Homo sapiens: one gene and its partner. The protein of the gene in region 1 purifies or fractionates together with the protein of each later gene. This does not show direct contact. Each region holds a gene or a part of one and is shown on either strand. Other genes may lie near its edges. The genes, in order: OR14J1 and KCNIP1.

Region 1 (3,925 bases):
ACAGGCAACCTACAGAATGGGAGAAAATTTTTGCAACCTACTCATCTGACAAAGGGCTAATATCCAGAATCTACAATGAACTCAAACAAATTTACAAGAAAAAAACAACCCCATCAAAAAGTGGGCAAAGGATATGAACAGACACTTCTCAAAAGAAGACATTTATGGAGCCAAAAAACACATGAAAAAATGCTCATCATCACTGGCCATCAGAGAAATGCAAATCAAAACCACAATGAGATACCATCTCACACCAGTTAGAATGGCAATCATTAAAAAGTCAGGAAATAACAGGTGCTGGAGAGGATATGGAGAAACAGGAACACTTTTACACTGTTGGTGGGACTGTAAACTAGTTCAACCATTGTGGAAGTCAGTGTGGCAACTCCTCAGGGATCTAGAACTAGAAATACCATTTGACCCAGCCATCCCATTACTGGGTATATACCCAAAGGATTATAAATCATGCTGCTAGAAAGACACATGCACACATATGTTTATTGTGGCGCTATTCACAATAGCAAAGAGTTGGAACCAACCCAAATGTCCAACAATGATAGACTGGATTAAGAAAATGTGGCACATATACACCATGGAATACTATGCAGCCATAAAAAAATGATGAGTTCATGTCCTTTGTAGGGACATGGATGAAGCTGGAAACCATCATTCTCAGCAAACTATCACAAAGGACAAAAACCCAAACATCGCATGTTCTCACTCATAGGTGGGAATTGAACAATGAGATCACATGGACACAGGAAGGGGAACATCACACTCTGGGGCCTGTTGTGGGGTGGGGGGAGTGGGGAGGGATAGCATTAGGAGATATACCTAATGCTAAATGACTAGTTAATGGGTGCAGCACACCAACATGGCACATGTATACATATGTAACAAACCTGCACGTTGTGCACATGTATCCTAAAATTTAAAGTATAATTTAAAAAAATGCCTTTTCCATAATCACACATATTTAAGAATGGAATTCATTCACTTTTGAGTAAAAATTATTCATCTGGGGGATTGTTAAAATGAGGGCTGGATTATCAGTTTCAGAGTAATTTTAGAAAAGACACCATGTTTGAAGAAAGTTTAGCTCTCTAAGTCATGGTTTTATTCTGAGATTCTTTGATTCTACTATTATGTATGGGTTTATGTAAATAATTACTAAGTATTCCTTTTTTTTTTTACATAAGGCCAGTGCAATCATGCATGATTTTATTGGTGACCAGTTAAAATGAAACTGTTAATTAATGAAAAAAATCCTTTTTACTAGAAAAACCTGTGAACCTGTGTTACAGAAAACGAGTTATGTATAATATTCATTTTTTTAACCTGAAATGCATCGACTACAAGAGTTAGCTAAACCAAGATAATAATTAACTACTTCCCACTGAGGCAATTCCCTGAGGGAGAGGTCCATGAAATCCCCTGCTTTGAACTCATAGTTTTTATCTGAAACACCAACTTTCCTGCACAGGATTTTTGTCCCCAGTGCCTGGACAGCACTGGCTTCATTTCAAATACCCCTTAGTTAATAGGAAATTTAAATGTCCCTGGGCAGTTACATCCTGTTTGGTCCTATATAAAAGCGTTTCAGTCCTTTCCTTACATGGAAATTTCACTGACTGAAACACCAGCTTGATTCTAGAACAAAGATGCTCAGTCTCAGGATCAATTGAGATTTGTTTCTACCGAGAGATCCACTCTGGTGAGTAAAACTTCTTCAAATTTTATGGAATTTATCCAACATTTATGTAGCACCTGCTTAGTGCCAGCGACTATGCGAGTCTTCAAAGTTATAACTCTAAATAAGATACATAATTTCTCACTCCTTAACTAAGAACAGTTTAAATAAGCTGCGATATCTATGCAAATAAGGTAGTATAAATTATAAAAAAGTATATAAAGCATAAAAAAGTTAGTATAAATTATAAGGAATCTTAAATGAATGCAATCTGGGCTCCAAAGAGTGACAATTCTTCTTGGGTCGACAGTTAAACTCAGGTGAATTATAAATGGAAAGAGACAATGTAGCTGTGTTAAAAGATAGTTAAGTATTTGCCAAACAAATGAGGGGAGATTTTTTTTCTTTTTTTTTTCTTTTTTTTTTTTTTTTTTGAGACGAGTCTCGCTCTGTCACCCAGGCTGGAGTGCAGTGGCGCGACCTTGGCTCACTGTAACCTCCGCCTCCTGGGTTCAAACAATTCTCCTGCCTCAGCCTCCCTAGTAGCTGGGATTACAGGTGCCCACCACCGTGCCCGGCTAATTTTTGTATTTTTAGTAGAGATGGGGTTTCGCCATTTTGGCCAGGCTGGTTTTGAACTCCTGACCTCAGGTGATCTGCCCACCTCAGCCTCCCAAAGTGCTGGGATTACAGGTGTGAGCAACCGTGCTCAGCCATGAGGGGCAATTCTAATGGGAGGACTTCCAGACAGGAGGGATAGTGTGATTTAAGAAAAGAAACACAGCATGGTGATACAACCTGATTGATTTATTAAGAGTAATTAAGTCAGTCGCCATTATTAGACATGGAGATTGGCATGGGGTTAGAGAAGTCACAATGATAGATAATACTGGAATGGCAGTCAGGAAGCATTGTAAAGATATTGTTTGCCATCCTAAGCTTTTTGGGCATCATTGCATAATCAAGTCAATAAAGAGCTAAAAGCTAAATTAATGTTACAAGATGTGATCTGCATCACCATTTGTCCTGGCAACAGCATTGAAGTTGGATTAGAAATACATAAAACTGAAGAATAAAATATTGCCAGAGATAATGAAGGTTTGAACTAATCTGTACGTGTGACAGCAAGATGTAATAACTACAACAGATAGTAAGCAAATAAAATTTTGGTGTTTGATTGGATATACAGATTAAAGCAAAGTTGTGCCATTCTTTGAAATAGGTCACAGTGACAGGGAGATGTCTGGGAGAAGAGATGAGTCCTTATGGGAAAGACCCATTCAGGGACAGTGATGTGCCAACCGTGAAGCAGGATATGAGGACCTGCAACCCAGGGGACCTGCAACCCAGAAGACCTATGGTAGTGCTCGAAACAGCAGACTATTATTTTCTATTGTGTAGGAAAATAGTTAATCTGTCTTCTTTAAAAGGCACAGGAATATTTTTGAGTAAACAAAAGTACAGAAAGAAAGTGTCAGGACAAATTTTTGGAAACCATCAAATTTCAATAAATGTTAAAAGAAGACCCAGATAACGAGACTAAGAAAAAATATTCAGAGAGGAAATAGAAAACCAGAACTAAGTGGCATAGAGCCAATGGAAGTCAGCTGTTTTAGAAGAAAGAACTGTATAATAGTGTCATATATTTGAGAAACAAAATTTAAAATAAAAACAAAATAGAAAGAGTGCATTGAATTTACCGTTGTGATAGTTATTTGTGGATTTGCTGGAGCTGTTTGTGAGGACTCATGAAGCAAGAATGATTAACATGGTTCAAGAATTGAACCAAATGTGCCAGGGCACAGAATGATACCCTATTCTGCTCATAAAGCATGGCTGTAAAGAGAAGGGACATTATAAGTAAGTCCTAAGTGTGGAGTGAAGACTTTTCTTTTTCTTTAAAATGGATGAGTCTTAAGATTATCTCTATCTATCTATCTATCTATCTATCTATCTATCTATCTATCTATCATCTATCTATCTCTAATCTATCATCTATCAACAGAGCATAGTGAAACAATCTGGTTCATTAAGAGTAATCTCAGTAAATCAACATTATTAGAATTTTTAGACATGGAGTTTGTGTTGATTTTATACACACACATATACAGACACACACACACACATAAAATGTGCACTATTATGAAAGAGAGAGAGAGAGCAAGTGCATACTGTGGCAAAGATGCCCTTTGCGATAGAGCAAGGTTGAGTATAGGGTTGGTCACTGACTTGGAA
Region 2 (3,825 bases), on another chromosome or scaffold:
TCTTATCCCAGGGCCTCTGTCAGGCCTGACACTGCATCCAGGCTTGATGGATGCTGGCGGCATGGAGGTAAGGATGGATGGGCCAGAGTGTGCGTTCTTGATGGCTCTGAGCGGTGTGAGAATGCGGCGGTGCAGATGAGGAATCCAGGTCTGCTCCTGGGGAGAAGCTCTGCAAAATTCTGCATAATGGCCGTGGAGCTGATGTTCCCATTCATCAGGCAGGGAAGGAACAGTTTTTAGAAAAGAGAGAGAGAGCCTAAGAGTCCTAGGGCCTTCAGAGAAACATCTCTTTAAATGCTTCCCCTTCCTCCGGGTAGTATTTTAAATAGGTCACCTTCTGGAAGTAGTGGTAGTCAGTTGGGATATTGCTAGCTTCCCGTACCCCAGCCATGGGAGTAGTACTTTGGATTAAATCTTGTTATTCAAGGCCAGACTAAAAGCCTCATTGGTGCGGTGGGGGGAAGTAGGAACCACATTCCACTCAAATCAGGAAGCTAGAAGTAGGATTGCATTATGGCTATGAGCACCGCGTTAAAATAAGAGTCTTGGGATTGAACTCCCTTTCATTGGTTCATAGCTGAGCCTTTCCAGGCCTCAGTTTCCTCTTCTATAAAATGGGGACAGTGGGCCAGGTATGGTGGCTCACATCTGTAATCCCAGCAGTTTGGAAGGTCAAGGTGGACAGATCACGAGGTCAGGAGTTCAAGACCAGCCTGGCCAATATGGTGAAACCCCATCTCTACTAAAAATACAAAAATTAGCCGGGCATGGTGGCATGCTCCTGTAATCCCAGTCACTCAGGAGGCTGAGGCAGGAGAATCGCTTGAACCGAGGAGACGGAGGTTGCAGTGAGCCAAGACTGCACCATTGCACTCCAGCCTGGATGACAGAGCGAGACTCCGTCTCAAAAAAAATAAAAATTAAAAAATGGGGACAATGACAGTGTCTCCCTATAGGGCCACGTGAGGGCCAAGAAGGAATTGAACATGGTGCTGCACACCAGGTGAGTTGGCAGTGCTGGCTTTGCTGCTGCCTTTTGTCCCATCTCAGGACAGGCCCCTTCCTTCTGCCTTGCTCCACTTGGATGATGACGGTGTTACCCTTGGTAATCTCCCCATCCCTTTGAGCTGTGGCCTCTGATTCCAGCCCTCTGAGATCCCGAGCCACCATATCCATGGTCACTGGCATTCTAAGCAGTTTCTCTGGTGATTCCTAAGGGAAGCTGTCAACTTTAGATGGTAAAAGCAATTCCCAACAGTGAGGTATGAAAATGCAGGTCACCCGCCAGGAAGGATAATAATACTAGCTCAAATGACTCTGGCCTCCACCCAGTGCCAGGCACCTTGCTCGGCTCTTTCCTGTGTTATTTTATTAACCCCAACCCTGGAGGACAAGATGCTATTACAGTTCTCATTTTGCAGTTGAGGAACCTGAGGCTCTAAAAAGGGAAGTGCCTTACTAAGGGTCATAGAGCTTGGGAATCGCAGAGCCTGGTTCTGGTTGATCCCAGACCCTGAGCTTCTAACTGCCATACTAACCTCCTCTCCTCCTGGCTTTGCCTCTGGAACCTTAGGGACCTGAGTAGAAAAACAGTCAAAACGGGTGCATGGATGTTGGGGAGAAGGCATTCAAGGATAGACTGAAGCACCTCATTAGCCACACGGAACAACTGAGCTACGTGCAGGCCCTGAGCAAAATGCTTTTAGCCCCATCCCAACCCCGCCTCCCCCTAGATCTGTTTCCATTTCATCTGACACTGTGGAAGCCTGAATATGAAATGATTGGGGGCAGAAGGCCAATTAGCAAATTCATTAATAGGATTAAACATCTCTCCTCTGCTCTAATCATTTATGTGAACTAAAATTTTCTCTCTTTGTTATAGCCATCATTGCCTGTCAGTGAAGATAGAGTGTTTAAATATCTTCCAAGTATGTTAGAATTGCAAACGTTCAGAACCAGGGACCAGGATCAGAGTTTTCACACGGTCCAGGTGGGCAAGGAGATCAGTCGGTTTACAAGTGGTTATCACTGCTAAGAAAAAAACACAAGAACTTGCTAGTACATTTGCAAGTACCTTACTGCTCATCTCCTTTCTCTCCTTAGCCACATGTTGGCCCAAATCACCTGCGTATGTTATACGGTTGTTATGAGCATACACTCCTGGTTAGGCAGACCTAGAATTCAAATCCTGGCTCTGCAACTCATTAGCTGTGTGACATTGAGCAGGTTACCTCGCTTCTGTGAACTTTCATCTCTACATAATCTAGAAAATGAAAGTATTGTTGATAATTCCCTCCCAGGTTGTTATGAGGATTAAATGCAGTCATGCATGTAAGATGCAGCGGTCAGCACTCAGAATGCGCTAAAGGTAAATTGTTACTATCTGGGTCTACTCCACTTAAAGTGTGCTCCTCCAACCAACAGCCTCAGCATCAGTTGGGAGCTTGTTAGAAATACAGAGTCCCGGCCAGGCGCGGTGGCTCACGCCTGTAATCCCAGCACTTTGGGAGGCCGAGGCTGGCGGATCATGAGGTCAGGAGATAGAGACCATCCCGGCTAACACGGTGAAACCCCGTCTCTACTAAAAATACAAAAAAATTAGCCAGGCGTGGTGGCGGGCGCGTGTAGTCCCAGCTACTCGGGAGGTTGAGGCAGGAGAATGGCGTGAACCCAGGAGGTGGAGCTTGCAGTGAGCCGAGATCGCGCCACTGCACTCCAGCCTGGGCGACAGAGCGAGACTCCATCTTGGAAAAAAAAAAAAAACCTCAACTCAGTGAGACCTACCCAGTCAGAACCTGCATTTTAACAAGATCACCAGATGGTTTATATGCCCACTGGAGTCTGAGGAATACTGGCCTAAAGTACAGATTATGGAACTATGTGTATTGTATTACACAAAATTATATATCAAGCCAGAAGAGGCTTTTGCTAAGACTTCTGATTTAAGCCTCATTTTACAAATAAGAAAATAGAATCCAGAGAAGGTGAGTGGTTTGCCCACAATCACACAGCTCAAGTGTTAGGCCTGACATCCGAACCCCAGCCCTGGTCATCTCATATAAATTGTTAAGAAGTCAGATTTCCAGATTTGCATTTCTGCAATCAAGCTTGTCTGTTTTTCTTTCTCTCTCTTTCTTTTTAACAACAAAGAAGTGCAGGATGATGTACGCCCATTAAGTTTTAGTTTACTCATTTTAAATGTTATTCCAGCCAACAGAGATCCTGAATCTTGACTCCACCAGCCATCATCTTAGCTGTACCTCCAAGTTTTCTGCTACCTGAAGAAATGATAAGGAGGCATTCTAGGTCTTTATCTAAGTTGCTTCTAAGAACATGGGCCAGAACAGGGTGCAGGACAGAGCCATGTGGACTGCAACTAGAGACTTGCCTGCATAATGGATTTCACTGATAATGTTCAGAATCCCAGAGCAGGATGGCAGCCTGGTTTACATACAGAGCCTTTGTGTGGGATTTGAAGCCAGAAAATGTGACTAAAGTAGGAGTCTAAACAGACACAGGTAGGGCCTGGGGAATGAAAGTCAAATGCCTTTTCCAGGGGGTCTAGTAGGACCTCTCTGTTGGTGGGGATCCCCCAAAAAAGTAATCTTTTTATTTTTGTAGGAGTCCTGTAATGGTTTCATTATTATTCTCACTTTGCAGAGTAGGAAACGTAGATGCAGGGAGGTTCTTGATTGGCTAGTGATTAGTAAGCAAGGACTTGAAGTGGATCTGATTGCGAGGCACTCCACCACCTGGGCTCCTGCCTGCAGCTGGAGGGCATATCCAGGACAAGCAAGCCTCTGAGCCCCAGGAAGAGGCTGAGCA

The links.
Region 2: the proteins of OR14J1 (region 1) and KCNIP1 purify together in Homo sapiens (affinity purification with mass spectrometry; one large-scale study listed by BioGRID and IntAct). This does not show direct contact.

The regions. Positions count from the first base shown.
Region 1 is NC_000006.12:29,300,074-29,303,998, forward strand, and holds the start of OR14J1 (olfactory receptor 14J1), read left to right. Parts: upstream 1-1,627; 5' UTR 1,628-1,714; intron 1,715-3,925. UniProt on the Homo sapiens protein: Odorant receptor.
Region 2 is NC_000005.10:170,510,303-170,514,127, forward strand, and holds part of KCNIP1 (A-type potassium channel modulatory protein KCNIP1), read left to right. Parts: intron 1-3,825. UniProt on the Homo sapiens protein: Regulatory subunit of Kv4/D (Shal)-type voltage-gated rapidly inactivating A-type potassium channels. Regulates channel density, inactivation kinetics and rate of recovery from inactivation in a calcium-dependent and isoform-specific manner.